3 linked regions of the Homo sapiens genome follow. The protein of the gene in region 3 purifies or fractionates together with the protein of the main gene of each other region. This does not show direct contact. Each region holds a gene or a part of one and is shown on either strand. Other genes may lie near its edges.

Region 1 (3,500 bases), on a different chromosome or scaffold from region 3:
GATTACAGGTGTGCGCCACCACACCCGGCTAATTTTGTATTTTTAGTAGAGATGGGGTTTCACCATGTTGACCAGGCTGGTCTCAAAGTGATCTGCCTTCAGGAGACCTCAAGTGATCTGCCTGCCTACGCCTCCCAAAGTGCTGGGATTACAGGTGTGAGCCACCGCACCCGGCCTGTTCGGGCTATTCTTATGCCAAGCTTGCATGTTAAGACCGTTTGCACGCAGCAGTCACTATGCATGAGGGAAACTGAGGTAGGCCCAATATCCTGTGACTCTAGGTTCATAATGCTAGAATCAGTTTGGAGTTGGAGCGTGAGGAGGAAAATTGTCTCCTGTCTGTGCTCCCGGATCCCAAACCCTGCACCCCCATGGGCCTCTATGAGAGACTCCGCCTGTGGACTGTAATTCACACAAGCTCTCTCTTCCTCTGTTTTACTTGCTCCCTCCATGACTGGGGCGGTGGCTGTCAAAAAGACTTGAGTACACAGTCCAGCAAGTCAGCTCCAAGTGACTGAGATATGTGGGTGGTGGAAACCAGCTGAGACAGGCATGAGATGTGAGAAAGCTTGCTCTGAGTGAATGGGAGTTTTGTGTCAGTTGAAGAAACAGAAGGAAGTGGAGATGCTGTTGCACGGGGACCACTCACATCCTTGAGGGTGATGATGTTCGGGTGCTGGCCGTACCGCAGGAGGATCTCAATCTCTTCCGAGGGGTCTCTCTTGCTCTTATCAATGATCTGGAACAAACACAGCACATGGCAGTGAGGGGTCTACTTTAGGCTTTCGGGTGGTATCTGCTGGTGGACCATTGAGTTTGGATAAAGTCTGGCCCCAGGTGGCCCAATCACTACAATCTCACACCCGACCAAGAGATAACCTGAGATTGTCTGGAGATTCATGGCAAGTCCTTTCTTTGACAACTAGTGTAAGATTTACATCTACAAAGAGGAGTACAGGCTGGGCAAGGTGGCTCATGCCTGTAATCCCAGCACTTTGGGAGGCCGGGGTGGGCAGGTGGCTTGAGGTCAGGAGTTTAAGACCAGCCAGCTTGGCTAACATGACAAAACCTGGTCTCTACTAAAAATACAAATATTAGCCAGACATGGTGGTGTGTGCCTGTAATCCCAGCTACTCAGGAGGCTGAGGCATGAGAATCACTTGAACCTGGGAGGCAGAGGTTGCAGGGAGCTGAGATAATGCCACTGCACTCCAGCCTGGGTGACAGAGCGAGACTCTGTCTCAAAAAAAAAAAAAAAAAAGGAGTACAAGACTTCAGACATGAATTTTAAGGTGTTATAAGGTTGGGTGGAGACACGTGTAGGGAGCTCATGCAAGTGCCACCAAATAACAGACTGTGTCCCACCCTCGCAGTGGGCACCATCCACAACAAGCCTCCAGCCACTGTGCACCTTCTGCCTTGTTCCGGGAATTACAAACCAGCCACAAAATGAGGTGAGGCGCATGGCTCTCACCAAGAGATGCTGGGGATGGTGCGCAGGCCAGACCTGCCTTGCTGTTTAGACATATGCAAGCTCCCCTCCCCCGCCCAGCATCTGTATCCGATGTCTTAGGATAACAGATAAAGTTGCTTCAACCCCATGGAGACATATGGTTTCTGAGGACAGGGTGTTGGGATTTAAGCCTACCTTGGAAACAGGAAGTCGCTGTTGGTCCCTGGTGGCTAATCCCTCTGGAGGTGCCTAAGTCCCGCCCTTGCCGCCCCTGCTGTGGGGACGGGACCAGTGGGAGGAGGGCACCACACTCATGGGAAATTGGCAACATGCAACATGTATTTTGCAAACAACACTCAGAGCAGAAGAAAAGCGATTGGAAACACCTTCCTAACCATGATTTGTACTATTCTCACATTAGTTCAACCTAATTTTAAAATAGTCTCTATTTGGAGACCGTGCAGTCATTTTACTACTAGAATATGAGGGTGACTTGCTTTTAACTTCTATCATGTCAAAGTCTCTAGGCAGAGCTTTGCATAAAACTCTATTTCGTTAATTTTTTTTGGAGACAGGGTCTCACTCTGTTGCCTAGGTTGGAATACAGTGGTACAAGCATAGTTCACTGCAACATCAAACCCCTGGGCTCAAGTGATCCTCCTGCCTCAGCCTCCAGAATAACTAGGACTACAGAGGTGTGTGCCACCCTACTCAGCTAATTTTTAAATTCTTTGTAGAGATGATGGGGTCTTGCTGTGTTGCCCAGGCTGGTCTCTAACTCCTGGCTTCAAGTGATCCTCCTGCCTCAGCCTCCCAAAGTGCTGAGATTACAGGCATGAGCAACTACACCTGGCTATTTCTTTACTTTAGAGAACCAAACGCTTGGGTAGCATTTGACTCACTGCTCATAATCTGTCCCCTGGTCACCCTTCGTCCACTCCCCGTCACCGTTATAAAAACTCACCATAGTGCCAGTTCTCACCCCATTATAGTTTCAAAGGATGCTCTGCCACGGCCACCATTCAGCTGTGACTGCATCAGTGGCCCATGATCTGTGAGTCCTAATAGCCTGCGTTGTAAACAGGCAGAAGAGTTAGGGTCCCTTTCTGGACATAGAATTTCTCTCCTTCTGCTGCATTTAATTCTACTGAAGTTTTAGCTAGGACACTAGGACTAATTCTATTGCCAACATAAATGCATCATTCTCAAGTAGAGACTTTTAAAACGATCATTCAAGGAGGGGTGGGGGACTTTCCCTAACATGCCACAGCCTAAGCAGGTCCTGGGAGGCTGGTCCTGCACTGCTTGTAGGGAAGCTGGCTGTCAGGTACCCAAACTCCTCTGCTCCTGTCTGCCTGTGGGCATCCCGTCTATCGGGGCCGGGATCCTGTCTTTGCAATTAGAGAAGGTTAAAATACATTTATAAATTTATAAAAGAATTCAGTAGAAGATTTTTTCGCAAATATGATTTCATGATAAAGGGATGTGTTCTTAGCATGAATCTGTTTTATCACTCTCACAGTGGAACAAGATGCAGAGTAAACAAGAAAGTGGGAGCTTTTTCTCCACCGCCACGGACCATCTTCAAGATACAAGGAGTAAAAAAGGCCGACGCGAGCAGGTGCATCCTACGCCATCCCTTGTTTTAAAAATGGAGAGAAGAATGCAGATAGACGCATCCATTTCCTTGTGGGTGCATAAAATAACCCTGGAAGGAAGGAGGAAACATTTAATTGCCTTGCCTTCCTGTGAGGAGGGGAACAGGGTGCCTGGGGGCCCATGGGTGGGAGGGAAACTTTGCTGTATCCACATGAATTTTTAAAAATTTTGAACCACAAGAATATATTGTCTATTCAAAATATGAAATAAAGAATTCCAAAATTTCAGCTTACTATTTTGTAAGCTGAAATTGCAGGACAACGTGACTATTATTTTAAAGAATCTGGGACTACAGATGGCTGCCCTCTCAACCCTAGTATCTATTTTATTTCTATGTGTTCTTTTGTTGTGAGTCTTCAGAAAAATTCTGACTTACAATGATAAGTAT
Region 2 (3,726 bases), about 180 Mb from region 3:
TAGTCTGAGGAGCTAGGGCTCATGACAGGGCCCTGTTTAAGACTAACCCAAGACAGTCTTCTCCGGCCTAACTTCTGGCCAGTGATGGCCTAGTTGACTGGAGTGTGTCCTTCTGCTCCAGATGAGCATCCCGAGCCACTGGGATACAAGAAGAAAAGACTAGCTTTTTTTACTATTTATTTTTATCTCATCCTTTTAACATTTCTATTTTTGAATGTTTAAAGTGTATATAACACTAAGACAATAATAGTATGTTATATCACCTGCAGAGTTATATGTATATGGAGTATATGATCAAAAAGTTTTTACTAATGGGAAATCTGATCAAAAAGCTTTCAGCCCACTGGCCTAGCAGCCAGGAGATACACCTGGCATCTCTCGCTGTGACACCTGTGAGAGCTGAAGAGGACCTTAGGAAAAGGATCAACATGCACACTTGGGACCACTGTGTCTAGTCTCTCTTCCCTGCAAATAATCAATCTGCTAGGCCACTGCCAGCCCCTCAAAGTGCTGCTAGATGCAAGACATCAGACACAGCTGGGCGAGTTACTGACCTCTCTGCAAGCCACAATGATCTCTGCCCCACACATGCATTCCGTGAGGACTGGCCGGTATGTGCGCTGCCTGCAGAAGCACACACAGACTCCCTGGCATAGCATATGAAGCCCTCCATGGGAGTCCCTTCTCATCCTGACCAAGGCCTACTCACCCTTAAGGCCCTGCTCAAAGGAGCCTTCTCTGCAAAGCTTCCCTCCACCTCAGACTCGAATGTGGAAAAGTCACCAGCAGTTTCAAGCAAACCCAGAGCCACCTACCTCCTGCCGGAACTCCACTGCTTCCCGCCCATCCTCCTCCTTGGTCTTTACCAGTGACATCTTGACCCAGGTGCGGAAGCCCCCAGAGAACTTCCAGCTGGAATAGGCACTCTCACAGGCCTGCATGAAGCCTACCCTGTTTGGGCTTGGAGGAAGGAAGGAGAAGGAAGATCCAGGTCAATGCAGGTCTGGCAGCAGGAGTCGAAGCCCCCACTGCAAGCTGGTTTCTTTGCTGGCACAACCAGGATGCTGCCCACTCCCTGCCTCCTCTCCAAATTGTGATTGCCTCAACAGGGCTGTCAGTCACCAGCAAAAGCAAGGCCCATCCCTCTTTTCTCTCCATTTGGTTTCCAAATGGAGGGGTAGTCACTGGCCTCAAGGCAGGAACATGATCCTTGAAGCTCCCAGTGGGAGAAATCTTCCTCCCTCCTCCCATCATTCCTATCGATGGCTACCAAAGCTGTCGGCAATGAAGTTGGCAGAAGCTCCCCAGAACATGGCGCTCACAGCTCCTCAGAGAACTCTGGACTTCAGCAGAGCCTGAGGAAGCCCTCACCAGCCTGTCAGCTCCCATGGAAGGCCCAAAGAGGGGAAGAGGGTTCCTTGGGGAGGTCTCAGCCAGATGGGTCACCTACAGCATCAGCCCCAAGACGGTGCAGATGCAGCAAAATCAAAGCGAACATAAAAACAAGTAAAAACTGCAGCAGCATACCGAGGAAGCTCACGAAAGGAGCGTGGAGTGGGGGTGGGATCCCGGGGAAAGTCTTCCAGGAGGAAGGCAAGATGGCCAGCTTGAAGCAGGGAAGGGAGAGGGAATTCTAGGTGGCAGAAAGGGTGGAAAATGCTAAGGCAGAGGCTCCGAGCTCTGGGGTGGAAGAACAAAGCAGTGGTGGTGTGGAATGGAGGCAGCTCGCTGCATGTCCAGCTGGGGAGCAGCCTCCCTGCCCCTGTAGCTGCCTCCCTGCTTGCTCTGAATGGAGCCTCTGGGCTCAGCAGGACCTGGTAGGAACTGAGTCCCTCTCAACTCAGGCACATGAAGAAAATTCTCCTGCCCTCTAGGCTCCACGGTGTGACCCCAAAGCAGTGTGTGTGGAGCAGACAAGAACTTTCTGATGGTCAGGGGACATTCATCACTGTAAATCGAAGACTAAGAGAGGTGGCAGAGCTTATATCCTCATACCAGAGATGCAGTAGACCCTTGAACAACACAGGTTTGAACTGGCTGGGTCCACTCACGTGCGGATTTTCTTTTGCCTCTGCCACTCCTGAGACAGCAAGACCAAACCTCCTCCTCAGCCTACTCAACATGAAGGCGATGAGGATGAAGGCCTTTACAATGATCACTTCCACTGAATGAATAGTAAGTATATTTTCTCTTCCTTATGATTTCCTTTTTTTTTTTTTTGGAGTCTCGCTCTGTTGCCCAGGCTGGAGTGCAGTGGCGCAATCTCAGCTCACTGCAAACTCTGCCTCCTGGGTTCAATCGGTTCTCCTGCCTCAACCTCTTGAGTAGCTGGGACTACAGGTGCCCGCTACCACGCCTGGCTAATTTTTTGTATTTTTAGTAGAGATGGGGTTTCACCATGTTAGCCAGGATGGTCTCGATCTCCTGACCTCGTGATCCGCCCACCTTGGCCTCCCAAAGTGGTAGGATTACAGGTGTGAGCCACCACACCTGGCCATGATTTTCTTAATAACATTTTTTTTCTCTAGTTTACTTTATCGTAAGAATACAGTCTATGATATATATAACCACGCAATATGTGTTGTTTATGTTATTGGTAAGGCTTCTGTCAACAGTAGGCTGTTAGTAGTTTTGGGGGTCAAAAGTTATACACAAATTTTTGGCTGCATAGGCAGGAGTGGTTAAGTTTGGTAACCCCAAACCCCAAGTTGTTCAAGGACCAACTGTATTTCAGGCAAACATACATTAAGCCCGCACTAAGGGCAAGATGTGGTTCCTGTGCACACTGTGGGGGAAACCAAGGAACCACACAAGAACTTGCTCTCAAAGGGACTTACAAATCAAAGGCAACTTCCCCTACTCCTCAGCAGCCCCAGGCAATGGTGAGACCAAATGATCTCTCTAGAACCAGCCAGCACTATGTGCATGGAGAGCCAGCATGCTCCTCCACACCAGATTTGCTTAACTTTGTGATAAGATGTTGAGTGGACCGGCCAAGCTCATGAGGTCCCTTCCTGGGCCAGTGGGTCATCTGAGAATGCCCCTTCCCTTCCCTGCCCTCACCCCTCCGTCTCTAGCCTTGGGACATACACAGCTGGAATAAGATAAAAAGTAGACAGTAAGCCCACTGTGAACTCTAAAAGCCCACCTTTGCAGGAACTCCTGGAAAGAAGAGAAGAGGAGGTAATCAATGGCGCTGAAGTCCTCACTACTCTTGTTCAGGCGGAACTGGAGGAAGACCAGCTCCCGCTTTTTCACTTCCCGGGGCCCCTGGACAATCAGGGCAGATTTCTGCAGAGAGAAAAAGGACAGAGTCTCAGTCCTGGGAGAGTACACAGAGGCCTCTGGGTCTGAGGGCAGAAGTACTGACTGGAAAGCCCATAGCTCCTTGCCCAGTGGTCTCCAAAGGGACCACTAGCCAACAACAGGACTGGGCTGGGACTCATGCTCATTCCTGGGGAGTTTTCCCCATATGATGCCCAACCAGAGCTGAATGCAGCTCATCCTCTGTCCACTTTTCTCATTGGTTCTTTGAGTTATGGAAGCTCTTAATTTAGCAAGGATGATCACTTTCATCTGTTATGTGTGCCAATCTTTTCTTCCAGTCTGTCATTTTTCTTTTAACTTTGTTTCCAATGTCATTTGTCCTATGGAAACTTTAAATTTAACGTAGTAAAACCTTAAATCCTTTTCTTTACGGCTTTGGGTTTTGCTTGCTGAGGAAAG
Region 3 (3,726 bases):
TACAAAACAACAACAACAACAACAAAAAAACCTGGGGATGGTGGCGCATGCCTGTGGTCCCAGCTACTTAGGAAGCTGAGGTGGAAGGATCACCTGAGCCCAGGAGGTCAAGACTGCAGTGGGCCTTGATCGCACCACTGCACTCCTGCCTGGGTGATAAGAGTGAGACTCTGTCTCAAATAATAATAAATGTAAACCAAATCCCACCATTCATCCCCTTAAAAAGCTATCAGTGGCTCCCCATTGTACTCAAGAGAAGTCCTCAGCAGGGACCCTGCTCATCCATTGAGCCTTGGGTCACTCACCCCTTACTCTGTGGGAAGGTGAACCTGTCCATCATGTCACCTTCTTCTACCTCCTCAAATGCTCTCTGCTCCTTCTAGCAGCTGGGTCTGCACCAGTTTTGTTCCTTTGCCTGGAATGCTATTTCCTGCAGCTTTATCTGGCTAGCTCCCACTTATCCAGGTCTCAGCTTAAGTGTTTTTCTTCATAAAGGCCTTTTATGAGCATATTTTATGTATTTGTGAGTTTGCTTAATGTCTGTCTGACATAAGCTACACAAGAGTGAAGTCTGTCCGTTTGATTCACCACAATATAAGCAGTGTCTGGCACAGGGCCTGGCACATAGTGGTCCCGCTCCATATCCACAGATGAATGAGACAGCCCCTGCCCTCAGGGATTTCACTGATGGGTGGGGAGACAGGCAAACATAACTAATCATGAGACAGCGAGAGAAATGCCGACCCAGGCATGTGAGAGAAAGGTGAGCACAACTTGAGGAGGTTAAGGGAGGGATAAGAAAGAGCTTTCTAGGGCTGGGTATGGTGGTGCATGCCTGTAGTCCCAGCTGCTTTGGGAGGCTGAAGCAGGAGGACCACTTGAGCTCAGGAGCTGGAGGTTGCAGTGAGCTATGACTATACCACTGCACTCCAGCCTGGGTGACAGAGCAAGACCTTGTCGCCACATTTTTAAAAAAGAAAGAGATTACTGGATGAACCAGAAGAACTTGTTTAGAAAAGAGGGAGATCAGCAAAGAGAAAGATTCCAGAAAAGCAAACTGATGTAAGCTCACAAAGGCCACATCTACCAGACCAAAAGTTCTAGCTTTTTGTGCTAGAAATAGTAAGTCATTGAAGAATGTCAGGGGGTGAAAAACATGATCAGAGTAACATGATAAAAACCTTGGCTGCAGTGTGAGGGGTGGGTTTTGCACATTTCACCTCCAGGCCCTCATTCTCAATATTCCTGGGTGAAATGCCCCGCCCGCCCTCACTGCTCTGGTTTCCTGGGCTCATTTCAAGCCCCACCACCTCCAGTCTCCACCTTGACAGTGTTGGTGGATCGAGCTGCTTGGTGCAGAGTCCAGACTGCTGTGAGCCTGTTCTCTTCTGCTACTGTGTGTCTTTTCTCCCTCACTAGACTGAGAGCACAGCCTGTGTCTGATGACTCCCTATACCCCCATAGCCTCTCCCTAACACAAAGCTTTAAGCATGAAAAGTGTTTAATAAATGCTTTATATAAAAATAGTTCTACTTGCAGAGTGTTTAGGAATCGCTTTATAGAGTCTAGCTCTCATAAACCAATGATACCTGTCCCATGGCATCCATGATGAGTGAAACCCTCGCCAGGTGACCCAGCCCAGCGGAGGAAGGAAGGCCTACTACCTGCCCTGATCTCCCAGTGCCATCACTCAAAGTCATCTTACTGTTTGTGCAAGGAAATGCCCTCCTATCTGCCCTAAGACACTGACAGAAGCTGAGGACTTGCCAAATGATAAAGATAGGAAGACAGGAGAACAAGGCTGGCTGAAAGGTGGTCAGCTGGCAGACACGGGCCTGGGTCTCATCTCTGCCCATAAAGCACAGACTGGTCAGCAGTAAGAGACAAGTCCAAGGTCCCTGACCCTGACTACCTGGGGCAGTTGGAAAAGCGGAACTCCAGGTGGGAAACATGAGGAGAATGCCCAGGCAAAGGAAAACAACAGGCCCAGCACCCCCGCCAAGCGGAAGTAGCACGCGAAGTGGGTCCTGGAGGCATTTTGTCCAGTGCAGCTCAGGGCAAATCTGACCCTCAGTCTTCATCAGGCAAAAGGGAACAAAATGCTTTGCAAGCACAGTGGGCTGTTAGTGACACACTCAGGAGGGGCTAGTGACAGCAGCCTTCCACAGAGAGAGTGCACAGACCTAGAAGCTCTGGCACCCAGGGCCCCTACCTGCTCGGGAGGTTGGCTTCAGCTCCAGGCTTTCCTGATCCGTGGCATCCAGGATCTTGTACTTGCTTTTCCTCTTGGGTTTTCCTTTTTGCCTAAAAAACACAACCCCCACCCCTGCTCAGGAAAGAGGTTCTCTGGGAGGATGAGGATGAGAGCCAGATGTGCATGCAGGGCCCTATTTTGGTGGGGCACCTACTGAGAGGGGTGTCCTCTCCTCACTTCTCAGCCAGGAAAGGTGGCAACTGTGATTTGTTCCTCAAATGTTCCTCAGCAATTCTGGAGAAGGGCAAGGGAGCTATGACCACCTTGGCACGGACTCACCATCCCACAGGGGCAATGAAGGACAGATTGGTTAAAAACGTAAAGAAAACAAAATCCTCTGCTTGAAGGGTGTGGGAGGAGACAGGCATTACACTAACAAAGTTGGTAATGGTGGTTGTCTTAGACTGGTGGGAATTTTTAAAAATTCCTTTAGTTCTAAGTTTTATAAGAGGTTATACTGAAAGTTGAATCTCAGCTCTGTCACTATCAACTGGTCCTCAGACAGTGATGTACCTTTCCTGAGCCTAAGTTTTTTTATCTGTAAAATGGGAAAAGGTTATGTGTCTTAAAAATGATATTACCTATAAAAATATTATGGCACACAGTATACACAGAAATAATATTATTAATAATGAAAACATAAAATAAATGTAACCATTCCATCTTAGAAGACTCAATAGGAAGACTCAAATGAAAAAACACAGGACGCCTGAGCCTGGCTAGCCTAAAGTGCATGTGTGGAAACATGCACACTCATGAATCCCAACTAGAAAGAAGGCAGAATTAAAAACTCGCGGGCTATGCTGGTGAGGCTACAGTGTGGTGCATTAAAGAAAACACACCTTACAGATGTGATCCGGGTCTGTACCCCTGGCCCTCACGCTCACTCCCCCACCTTGCCCTGCTCCCGCCCAGCCATGTTTCCCAGGTTCCAAATCACTGCAGTGGCTGCCACTCACTGAAGGAGTGTGCCTCTGCCCTCAGGAGAGTCTCAGGGTGAGCAAAGCTGCCCGTGCATGCCTTAGGTGGGTCAGAACTCTCTAATGCTGACTAAGGACCCAGCCCAGTCCTTCCACGTGGAAGGTGCCAAATACCTCTCTGAGGAACGAATGTATGACAAGAAGCCCGAATGAATTTCAAAGGAAAATCCATCTTACCTCTTACAACAACAGATCACAGTCCAAGACAGGATTCCCAAGGCAACAACAATGACAAAGGTAGCAATGATAACATATAACACGCTCCACTCTGCCAAGAAAATCAAAATGGTGAGGGCTGTGGAGGGAGAGGCTGGGAGGGAGGTCTGGGCTGCTCCCAGCTTGGGCAGGTGTGGCTTCACTCTGGAGACAAGAATGCCTCAGGCTCCCCAGGAAGGTAAGACCTTGGAGTTAAGGGCAGCTGAAGCTTTAAACCTTTTGAAATGTCCCTGCTTTCCAGTCCCTGCTCCTGGCAAGCCCTGAGACCCTGCAGCA

Evidence for each region.
Region 1: the proteins of KIAA0319L (region 3) and RPS6KA2 fractionate together in Homo sapiens (co-fractionation; one large-scale study listed by BioGRID). This does not show direct contact.
Region 2: the proteins of KIAA0319L (region 3) and PACC1 purify together in Homo sapiens (co-immunoprecipitation; one large-scale study listed by IntAct). This does not show direct contact.

Annotation. Positions count from the first base shown.
Region 1 is NC_000006.12:166,431,752-166,435,251, forward strand, and holds part of RPS6KA2 (ribosomal protein S6 kinase alpha-2), read right to left. Parts: intron 740-3,500; coding exon 650-739; intron 1-649. UniProt on the Homo sapiens protein: Serine/threonine-protein kinase that acts downstream of ERK (MAPK1/ERK2 and MAPK3/ERK1) signaling and mediates mitogenic and stress-induced activation of transcription factors, regulates translation, and mediates cellular proliferation, survival, and differentiation.
Region 2 is NC_000001.11:212,376,747-212,380,472, forward strand, and holds part of PACC1 (proton-activated chloride channel), read right to left. Parts: intron 3,292-3,726; coding exon 3,149-3,291; intron 961-3,148; coding exon 816-960; intron 139-815; exon of another isoform or gene 48-138; intron 1-47. UniProt on the Homo sapiens protein: Chloride channel gated by pH that facilitates the entry of chloride ions into cells upon exposure to extracellular acidic pH. Involved in acidosis-induced cell death by mediating chloride influx and subsequent cell swelling.
Region 3 is NC_000001.11:35,438,835-35,442,560, forward strand, and holds part of KIAA0319L (dyslexia-associated protein KIAA0319-like protein), read right to left. Parts: intron 3,503-3,726; coding exon 3,412-3,502; intron 2,305-3,411; coding exon 2,213-2,304; intron 1-2,212.